2 separate regions of the Homo sapiens genome follow, and region 2 is linked to region 1. Evidence: fine-mapped expression QTL. A gene starts in region 1. The other region holds a variant in brackets. All regions are shown on one strand. Distances are from middle to middle. Region 1 holds the start of LMCD1-AS1 (LMCD1 antisense RNA 1). Region 2 holds the start of LOC107986009 (a long non-coding RNA gene).

Evidence for each region. PIP is the estimated chance that this variant, and not a neighbour inherited with it, causes the effect.
Region 2: its variant is the best candidate, but not a certain one, in a credible set for the expression of LMCD1-AS1 in nasal epithelium (TOPMed, PIP 0.78).

Annotation. Positions count from the first base shown.
Region 1 is chr3:8,499,216-8,504,215 of GRCh38, reverse strand. It overlaps LMCD1-AS1 (LMCD1 antisense RNA 1), which reads left to right and starts at 2,558. Exons shown (of 4, transcript NR_033378.1): 1 at 2,558-2,745. It overlaps LMCD1 (LIM and cysteine rich domains 1), which reads right to left and starts at 2,393. Exons shown (of 6, transcript NM_014583.4): 1 at 2,236-2,393. The coding sequence starts at 2,277. RefSeq lists enhancers at 3,872-4,805, 4,806-5,000.
Region 2 is chr3:8,609,227-8,614,760 of GRCh38, reverse strand. It overlaps LOC107986009 (a long non-coding RNA gene), which reads left to right and starts at 2,818. Exons shown (of 5, transcript XR_001740420.3): 1 at 2,818-2,903; 2 at 3,402-3,533; 3 at 5,169-5,534. RefSeq lists enhancers at 2,321-3,201, 3,202-4,083. The variant A/C (reference allele first, on the strand shown) is at 3,004.

The DNA.
Region 1 (5,000 bases):
CGGCTCTCCTCCCTCCCCTCCACATTTTGAGTTGAAGGCATTGGTTAACCTACAAAATGGTGATCTTCCTCCTGATTGTCGCAGTCCCAAGAGATAAAAAAAATCTGCCCTTTCATCTCTACCCACCACATTCTTTCTCTAAGCCTGTAATTGGATCTAAATGGAAAACAAACCCTTTGCAGGCCAAGGAAGTTGGCACTAGGGGGTGACAAGAAGGAGAACATGTTCCACCTCTAATCAGGATAATCACACTCCCCTATGCAAAGGAAAATAAAAACAAGGCTTCCTCCAAGTGGCAACACAGGACTGTGGTGAGGAGGAGGAGTCTCCATATACCTCATCTCACCTCATACAGTAACTATCAACCAGCTTATATTAAAAATACTCAGAATCATTTCACTTTCCAGAGGACAATGGAACTCTGCCACCTTTAGCCGTGAACTATTCTGTGTCTGAACTTGGGGAGGCAGTTCAGACACACAAATATCAATGCTACAAGTTAAAAAATAATGCATAAAATGAAGCCTATGCAAACAGTGTGGTCTTAGCTGGACAGATATTCTCATGAGTCACCCACAGGTTTTTGAGTCCTGCTGTGTGGCATGGTGTGCTATGTTCAAACAGGGATGAACAAGACAGGTTTGCCCTCAAGGAGTCCAGAAAAATGTATAGAGAAATAAGAGCATTGCATGCATAACTCACTACTAGGTAGCAATTAATAGGTATCTTCTAAGAGTCTAAAATGTTATGGTAATTTCTGTAGGAGGGGAAATGACTTGATTCTGCAAATAGCTTGGCAAATGCAGTGAGGCATGATACATTCCAGACAAATGCCCAGATTCAATGTGACTTGGTACCCACATTTAGAAGGATCCACTGGACTCTGTGACAGGGTCTGGGCAGGTGGTCTACAGAAGAGCACAGCTACAAATTAGACAGTGCATGCTGTGCCTCTGAGTGGCTGTTTGTGTCTTTAGTTTGATTCTCACGTCTTTTGTTTTTCCCCCTCTCATTCTACCCTGCAGGTTAATGGCAGATATTTAAGGAAGACTTTGCCCTTCAAGACTAAACCCTGTGAAATCAGAGTTTAACAATGACTGCTTTGGGAAATTAACTCACAGTGTCAGTATCCCTGCTACCACTGCCATGAGGGAGGTTAGGCCTATCCTCCCCACATCAGAGACAAGGAAACTGAGGCTCAGAAAAGTGACCTGGTGAATCATGTGCAGTTAAAAAGTGGCAGGGACTGAGTCTGGATGCCTAGGGCTTGCCTTACAGTCAGCTGCCTGTTAGAACCAACTCTCTGTGACCCCGGGCCTCAGTTTCCCGATCTGTAAAGCCTAGGTTGTCTCTCTGTTCCCTTCCCGTTCACATGTTCTCTAAGTCTCCAGCCTGTGCCTTCTCCCAGCTGCATTCAGGTAGGCAACAAGTGGTATTGGAGCTATAGGCACAGCCGCAGGCTCCTGTGCAGGAGTTTACCCATGACCTTCTGGGCTCCGGGCCAGCCCTTCTTGTAAGGGAAACGTGCAGACCCTGGGGACAGAAATCAGTTCCCTTATGCTGGAACTGCTGCCACTGCCAACATCACCAACTAAAGAAACTGCGTGCGTGTGTGTGTGTGTGTGTGTGTGTGTGTGTGTGTGTGTATTGGGGGAAACACACAAAACACTGGGATAATAGCAAAAGGGAGACTGTGAGTAAATATTACATGCTCTCAACCCTTACTTCAGCCACCTGAGGACAGGGAGTGAGGAAGCTAGGGGTTTTTCCTTTACAGACCATAAGATTTCATATATATATATTATATATTATATATATTTTATATATAATATATATTATATATATTTTATATAATATATATTATATATTTTATATATAATATATATTATATATAATATATATTTTATATATTATATATAATATATATTATATATATTTTATATATATATTTTATATACATTTTATATATATTGTATATATATGTAAAACCTTAATTAAACTTTAACTAGCATCACCAAAGACATAAGACCCTTTGCAAATATTTTACACAACATTGGGTTTGGGGTGTGTGTGCCTGTTAGCTCAAACATGTATTCCCAACTATTTGTTTTCCATGCAGTTTTGGAATTTAAAGAGTTCCCTTCTCATTACCTTTTGGGAAGTTTCCGCGAACAGATGGGAAGGGGAACAAGAAAAAGTAAGAATCTGGGTAAATACAAACAGCTTTCCACTCACCTTTTTAACTCCTGGGTTGAGGTCCTTAGCCACCTTTGCCATCCTCTTCTGGGGTGGGGGAACAGCGCCTGGCTTCTCAGGCAGAGGCGCGAGGGCGCGCAGCGGGGACAGCGGCGGCTGAATGGCCAAGTTCGCGGGCCTGGGAGGGAGCTCTGTGCGCAGCCAGGCGCAGCTGGGCCGCTTTAATTGGAGAGCGGGACTCCCTCTAAAACCTCGCCAGCCACTCCGCGCCGGCGCTCGCGCGAGGCCAGCCAATCCCAGCGCGAGGCTGTCCCCCTCCCTCAGGGAGGTCTCTGCACTGTGGCAGCGAGCGGAGCTGAGCGCCGGCTGCCCTGACGTCAGCATGGCCGCGGCCCCTGACTACCCAGCTCCCTTCTATCCCTCGAGCGGCAGGAATCCGTCCCCACGCCCTTTTCCTTTAAAGGGCAACGGGCCGAAGGTGGGGCGGGCGGCGCGGCTCCCGCGATCCATTCAGGTCAAAAGGGAGAGTGATCAAACAGGAGAGCCGAGGTATTTTTAGTGAGCTGGATCCAGAAATAAATGCTGAGCTGTGCTCCCCTTCCCACCCTTTCTGCCTGGTCGTAGGGGGCGCGGGGAGGGCTGAGGGAGGAGGTGTTTTGCAGGAGCTGGCTAACGTTTCCCAAACCTGGGCGAGTTCTCCAATATCCAGAGAGGAGAAAAGATTCCAGCGAGTTATGATTTTTTTAAACTTAACGTTCGTAAAGTATTAAACTGCTTTCTTATAACTTGCTTTAACATAAATCCTTCTTATTCCATGAGCAAGAAATCACTGTCCTGATCTTAGAGATGCTCCTGTGGACATACTGTCTTGTTGTATGCTCATATTATCTCAGATATTATTATTATTATGACTGTAAGACGATAGATGAGGAAATAATCAGAATAACTGGTCCACAGCTGAATTACTGAGCAAGGCTTTAACCTGAGAGACTGAGAGTAATAGAGAGAAAGCTCATGGGGGCGTGGCGGGGGGGGGGAGGGAGGCGGCGGGCACAGGATTGTAAACTATAAACTAGGAAGTTAGTAATTTTTAGATAAATGGGGTCATGCAGGCCTGGACAAACAAGATTCCATCTGAGTTCACAAATCCATGGAATGTGGAGTCCTTGCAACGCATAACATAACTACTCTTATAAGACAGAATTGGCCAGGTTCCTCTCTCTATGCCACGTTGTTTGCCTATAAAGCCACATCTCTCTGCTGAGCCGGTTCCACAGACTTGGATTCCAGAGGCATTTCCCCCCTGCCCTGACAGAGGATTAAACACAAGCCCTTTTTATCCTAGAGAGAATACTGCTGTCTCTGTTGTGAGGTGTTCGGCCTGTAACCCGTCTTTGCAGTGCCCCCTGCCAGAAAAACCAGGGTCCCGTGGGCTAAAATAAAACTCGGTTGCACAGAGACTGAAGAGTGGTCCCGAAGTACACCATTCGGGAGGGATTTGGTGAGAAGGGGAGGCTGCAGTTCCCACTGTGGGGCTGTCTCTTGCTGGAGGCTTTTTCCTCTTGAAAGCCTCCTCCAATTTAGTTCTTATCATCATCTCCAGTCATCCCAAATCTCAGCCAGGGATCCTGAATTGTGACTTTTTATTACATATTCCTGGAAAGGGCTTTTTGTGGCTTATCTTTTCCAAGATGAGGGATGACCTATTTCTTTTTTCACAGATTTCTGCTATAATTGATTTTTGCCTTGTTTGCTCCCAGCTATGTCCTCAAACACCTAGCATGTGGTATAGGCACAGTACACATTTGGCAAATGAATAGAGGTTGGGTTCTGGCTTTTATTTTTTTTATTGATACATCATGATTGTACATGTGGTATTTTGATATATGCTTACAATGTGTAATGATCAAATCAGGGTGTTTAGGATTTCCATCACCTTGAACATTTATAATTTCTTTGTACTGGGAACATGTCAAATCACTTTTAGCTTTTCTTTTTTTTTTTTTTTTTTTTTTGAGACAGAGTCTCGCGCTGTTGCCCAGGCTGGAATGCAGTGGCGCGATCTCGGCTCACTGTGACCTCTGCCTCCCAGGTTCAAGTGAGTCTCCCACCTCGGCTTCCCAAGAAGCTGGGACTACAGGCATGAGCCACCATACCTGGCTCATTTTTGTATTTTTAGTAGAGACAGAGTTTCACCATATTGGCCAGGCTGGTCTTGAACTCCTGACCTCAAGTGATCCTCCTACCTTGGCATCCCAAAGTGCTGGAATTACAGGAGTGAGCCACCGCACCTAGCCTCTTTTAGCTATTTTGAAGTATACAATTCACTGTTGTTGACTATAGTCACCCTACTGTGCTGTTGAATGCTAGACTTTTTCTTGCTATCAGACAGTGTTTGTTCGCATTAACCAACCTCTGTTCATCCCCTCACACCCCAGCCCACCATTTCCCAACCTCTGGTAACCTTCTTCTACTCTCTACCTCCATGCAGTAAGCAGGCAAAGTAAGAATAGGGAGAGATGGTGCAATGGCACACCTGGCCTGGTTTGTCCAAACTTCCAAGGTAGGCTGCATGTTAAACCAGTATGTAAATAAACAGTGGCCAACAGAAGCCTGGCCTGGGAGAGGAGGTTTCCACATGAATAGTCCTTTCAGTAGCAAATCCTAGGAACAATAGTGCTAAATCAGGATGTCATGCCAGAAGCCTTTATATTTTAGAGCTGTGGGAACAGAAGCCAGGAATATAACAAAGGCAAGCTTTATCCCTTTCAAACGAGGCAAAAGCCTGCCCAGTGAAGTCATTT
Region 2 (5,534 bases), 110 kb before region 1:
CTAGATTTTCTAGTTTATTTGCGTAGAGGTGTTTGTAGTATTCCCTGATGGTAGTTTGTATTTCTGTGGGATCCGTGGTGATATCCCCTTTATCATTTTTTATTGCATCTATTTGATTCTTCTCTCTTTTTTCTTTATTAGTCTTGCTAGTGGTCTATCAATTTTGTTGATCCTTTCAAAAAACCAGCTCCTGGATTCATTAATTTTTTGAAGGGTTTTTTGTGTCTCTATTTCCTTCAGTTCTGCTCTGATTTTAGTTATTTCTTGCCTTCTGCTAGCTTTTGAATGTGTTTGCTCTTGCTTTTCTAGTTCTTTTAATTGTGATGTTAGGGTGTCAATTTTGGATCTTTCCTGCTTTCTCTTGTGGGCATTTAGTGCTATAAATTTCCCTCTACACACTGCTTTGAATGCATCCCAGAGATTCTGGTATGTTGTGTCTTTGTTCTCGTTGGTTTCAAAGAACATCTTTATTTCTGCCTTCATTTCGTTATGTACCCAGTAGTCATTCAGGAGCAGGTTGTTCAGTTTCCATGTAGTTGAGTGGTTTTGAGTGAGATTCTTAATCCTGAGTTCTAGTTTGATTGCACTGTGGTCTGAGAGATAGTTTGTTATAATTTCTGTTCTTTTACATTTGCTGAGGAGAGCTTTACTTCCAAGTATGTGGTCAATTTTGGAATAGGTGTGGTGTGGTGCTGAAAAAAATGTATATTCTGTTGATTTGGGGTGGAGAGTTCTGTAGATGTCTATTAGGTCCACTTGGTGCAGAGCTGAGTTCAATACCTGGGTATCCTTGTTGACTTTCTGTCTCATTGATCTGTCTAATGTTGACAGTGGGGTGTTAAAGTCTCCCATTATTAATGTGTGGGAGTCTAAGTATCTTTGTAGGTCACTCAGGACTTGCTTTATGAATCTGGATGCTCCTGTGTTGGGTGCATATATATTTAGGATAGTTAGCTCTTCTTGTTGAATTGATCCCTTTACCATTATGTAATGGCCTTCTTTGTCTCTTTTGATCTTTGTTGGTTTAAAGTCTGTTTTATCAGAGACTAGGATTGCAACCCCTGCCATTTTTTGTTTTCCATTTGCTTGGTAGATTTTCCTCCATCCTTTTATTTTGAGCCTATGTGTGTCTCTGCACGTGAGATGGGTTTCCTGAATACAACACAGTGATGGGTCTTGACTCTTTATCCAATTTGCCAGTCTGTGTCTTTTAATTGGAGCATTTAGTCCATTTACATTTAAAGTTAATATTGTTATGTGTGAATTTGGTCCTGTCATGATGATGTTAGCTGGTTATTTTGCTCGTTAGTTGATGCAGTTTCTTCCTAGTCTCGATAGTCTTTACATTTTGGCATGATTTTGCAGTGGCTGGTACTGGTTGTTCCTTTCCATGTTTAGCACTTCCTTCAGGAGCTCTTTTAGGGCAGGCCTGGTGGTGACAAAATCTCTCAGCATTTGCTTGTCTGTATTTTATTTCTCCTTCACTTATGAAGCTTAGTTTGGCTGGATATGAAATTCTGGGTTGAAAATTCTTTTCTTTAAGAACGTTGAATATTGGCCCCCACTCTCTTCTGGCCTGTAGGGTTTCTGCCAAGAGATCTGCTGTTAGTCTGATGGGCTTCCCTTTGAGGGTAATCCGACCTTTCTCTCTGGCTGCCCTTAACATTTTTTCCTTCATTTCAACTTTGGTGAATCTGACAATTATGTGTCTTGGAGTTGCTCTTCTCGAGGAGTATCTTTGTGGCATTCTCTGTATTTCCTGAATCTGAACATTGGCCTGCCTTGCTAGATTGGGGAAGTTCTGGATGATATCCTGCAGAGTGTTTTCCAACTTAGTTCCATTCTCCCCGTCACTTTCAGGTACACCAATGAGACGTAGATTTGGTCTTTTCACATAGTCCCATATTTCTTGGAGGCTTTGCTTATTTCTTTTTATTCTTTTTTCTCTAAACTTCCCTTCTCACTTCATTTCATTCATTTCATCTTCCATTGCTGATACCCTTTCTTCCAGTTGATGGCATCGGCTCCTGAGGCTACTGCATTCTTCACGTAGTTCTCGAGCCTTGGTTTTCAGCTCCATCAGCTCCTTTAAGCACTTCTCCGTATTGGTTATTCTAGTTATACATTCTTCTAAATTTTTTTCAAAGTTTTCAACTTCTTTGCCTTTGGTTTGAATGTCCTCCCGTAGCTCAGAGTAATTTGATCATCTGAAGCCTTCTTCTCTCAGCTCGTCAAAGTCATTCCCCCTCCAGCTTTGTTCCGTTGCTGGTGAGGAACTGCGTTCCTTTGGAGGAGGAGAGGCGCTCTGCTTTTTAGAGTTTCCAGTTCTTCTGTTCTGTTTTTTCCCCATCTTTGTGGTTTTATCTACTTTTGGTCTTTGATGATGGTGATGTACAGATGGGTTTTTGGTGTGGATGTCCTTTCTGGTTGTTAGCTTTCCTTCTAACAGACAGGACCCTCAGCTGCAGGTCTGTTGGAGTACCCTGCCGTGTGAGGTGTCAGTGTGCCCCTGTTGGCAGGTGCCTCCCAGTTAGGCTGCTCGGGGGTCAGGGGTCACTTGAGGAGGCAGTCTGCCCGTTCTCAGATCTCTAGCTGCGTGCTGGGAGAACCACTGCTCTCTTCAAAGCTGTCAGACAGGGACATTTAAGTCTGCAGAGGTTACTGCTGTCTTTTTGTTTGTCTGTGCCCTGCTCCCAGAGGTGGAGCCTACAGAGGCAGGCAGGCCTCCTTGAGCTGTGGTGGGCTCCACCCAGTTGGAGCTTCCCGGCTGCTTTGTTTACCTAATCAAGCCTGGGCAATGGCGGGCGCCCCTCCCCCAGCCTCGCTGCCGCCTTGCAGTTTGATCTCAGACTGCTGTGCTAGCAATCAGCGAGACTCCATGGGCGTAGGACCCTCCAAGCCAGGTGGGTGGTGCACCGTTTTTTAAGCCCGTCGGAAAAGCGCAGTATTAGGGTGGGAGTGACCCGATTTTCCAGGTGCCATCCGTCACCCCTTTCTTTGACT[A/C]GGAAAGGGAACTCCCTGACCCCTTGTGCTTCCCGAGTGAGGCAATGCCTCGCCCTGCTTCGGCTCGCGCACGGTGCGCGCACCCACTGACCTGCGCCCACTGTCTGGCACTCCCTAGTGAGATGAACCCGGTACCTCAGATGGAAATGCAGAAATCACCCGTCTTCTGCATCGCTCACGCTGGGAGCTGTAGACCGGAGCTGTTCCTATTCGGCCATCTTGGCTGCTCCCCCACTTCCTTGCTTTTTTAAGGGATCCCTTCAGGTACTAACAATGGCAAACATTTATTAAGCTTTTCCCAAGTTACAGGCACTATTCTAACCATTTTTCAAGGGTCAGACCCTAAGTCTTCACAACAAGCTTATAAAGGAGGGGCTGTTTTTATCCCCGTTTTACAGATGAGGAGACGGAAGTCCAGAGGGTTTCAATCGCTTGCCCAAAGTCACAGAGTCGGGAAGTGCAGAGCCAGGCCACTGCCTGGTTTTAAATTCTGGGTGGAAATGCAACGTGCCGGTCAACATGGTGTGCTGGTGAGTGTGTTATCCTCAGCGGTGCCCAGGGCACAAATGTGCAGACCAGCTGACAGCAACAGCAGGCTCCCCTTTTCTCCATCAGGAACTGTCAGAGGAGGCTGGGTAAGGAGAGCAGCTTGGCCGCCTGGGGCTGCAGCTGGGAGGTCCCAGCACAGCAGCTGCTGGGTGAAAGTGGGTTGTTCTTCTTCAGTAGGAGTTGTGGGCCCAGGTTGCTTTGTTGCCGAGGCCAGCTTGGCCTCTTTGCAAGTAATTGGTAATTGTGCCATTGCACTTCCGCCTGGACAACAGAGTGAAACCTTATCTCAAAAAAAAAAAAGAATTAATAGTAATAACAATTACTGAGTACTTGGTATGTGATATGGTTTGGCTCTGTCCCCACCCATATCTCACCTTGAATTATAATAATCCCCATGTGTCAAGTGTGGGGCCAGGTGGAGATAATGGAATCAAGGGGGCAGTTTCCTCATACTGGTCCCAGGTAACCTCTTTAGCCACACCTGAGAGTAGAAACATCTTCAGTTTGGAAGGCAAGTAAGGGTCCTATCCACAGCTTCCTGCATGTGATCATTGCTCAGGGCAAGGTGACCAGTAGAGCCCTGGGTGAGCCTCCCCTCTACCAGTCATTGTGCGACTAGAATTACTTACAATGCATATTATGCAAGATATGGTGTATGTAGTACATACACACACACAACATGTATATGATTAATTGTAAAACAACTTTTGCCTTTGAATAAATCTTAGCTAAGCCCCACCCTAGCCCTGAGACCATCTCATCAATCTCTGCGAACTTAGTCTGCTCATCTGCAAAATGATCGTATTAAGAGTACCTACTCCTCCCAGACCTGTTGTGAGGACTAGAGATACGTAATTAACGGAAGGCTCTTAGAACACAGCCCGGCACATACTGTATTAATCTGTTCTCACTCGGCTAGTAAAGACATACCGGAGACTGCGTAATTTATAAAGGAAAGAGGTTTAATTAACTCACAGTTCCACATGGCTGGGGAGGCCTCACAATCATGGCAGAAGGCAAAGGGGAAGCAAGACATGTCTTACATGGCAGCAGGTAAGAGGGCATGTGTTAGGGGAACTCCCATTTATAAAACCATCAGATCTCGTGAGACTTATTCACTACCACGAAAAAGAGTGTGGGGAAGCTGCCCTCATGTTTCAATTATCTCCACCTGACCCCACCCTTGACATGTAGGGACTATTACTATTCAAGGTGAGATTTGGGTGGGGACACAGCCAAAAACCATATCACATACTAAATACTCAATAATTATTATTACTACTAATTCATTTTTTTGAGATAGGATTTCACTTTTGTCCAGGCTGTAGTGCAATGGCACGACAGGGCTCACTGTAGCCTCAAACTCCTGGACTCAAGCAATCCTCCTGCCTCAGCCTCCCAAGTAGCTGGGATGACAGGTGTGTGCCACCAGGCCCGGCTAAGTCCAATGTCACATATTGTCATTATTACTGTTACTTTTACAGTGTGGAGTCATTGTGGGACTTAGATGCATAAATGAAATAATTCCTCGCACAAAGTAAGTGCTCATTAAGGGGTACTTTATATTTTTGTTGTTATTACAAAGTTCTTTCTCCCTCATTTAATCCCCACCCCAGATGTGGAGGAAAGCTGGGATTCCTTTTCTCATTTGAAAAATGTTGAAACAGATGGATATAAAAAAAGCAAAATGTCTTGTTCCACGTTTCCAAAAGAGGAAGTATGAAAGGCGTAATTGAAATTCAAAACGTTTGGTCTGAAAATCCTACATCCTTTCTCCTAACAACCGTGAATTCTTACTAAAGGATAAGGCATTAAAGCCTTTTTTGAACCATCTTTCTCTTATGGAGGAACACAGCCTATTAAACCACACCAGCTACTAACTGCCTGCTAGGGTCTGAAAGTGTCCTCCCAGCAGTCATGTCTCCAAGGTGATGGCATTAGGACGTGGGGCCTGTCGGAGGTGATTAAGTCACTAGAGTGGA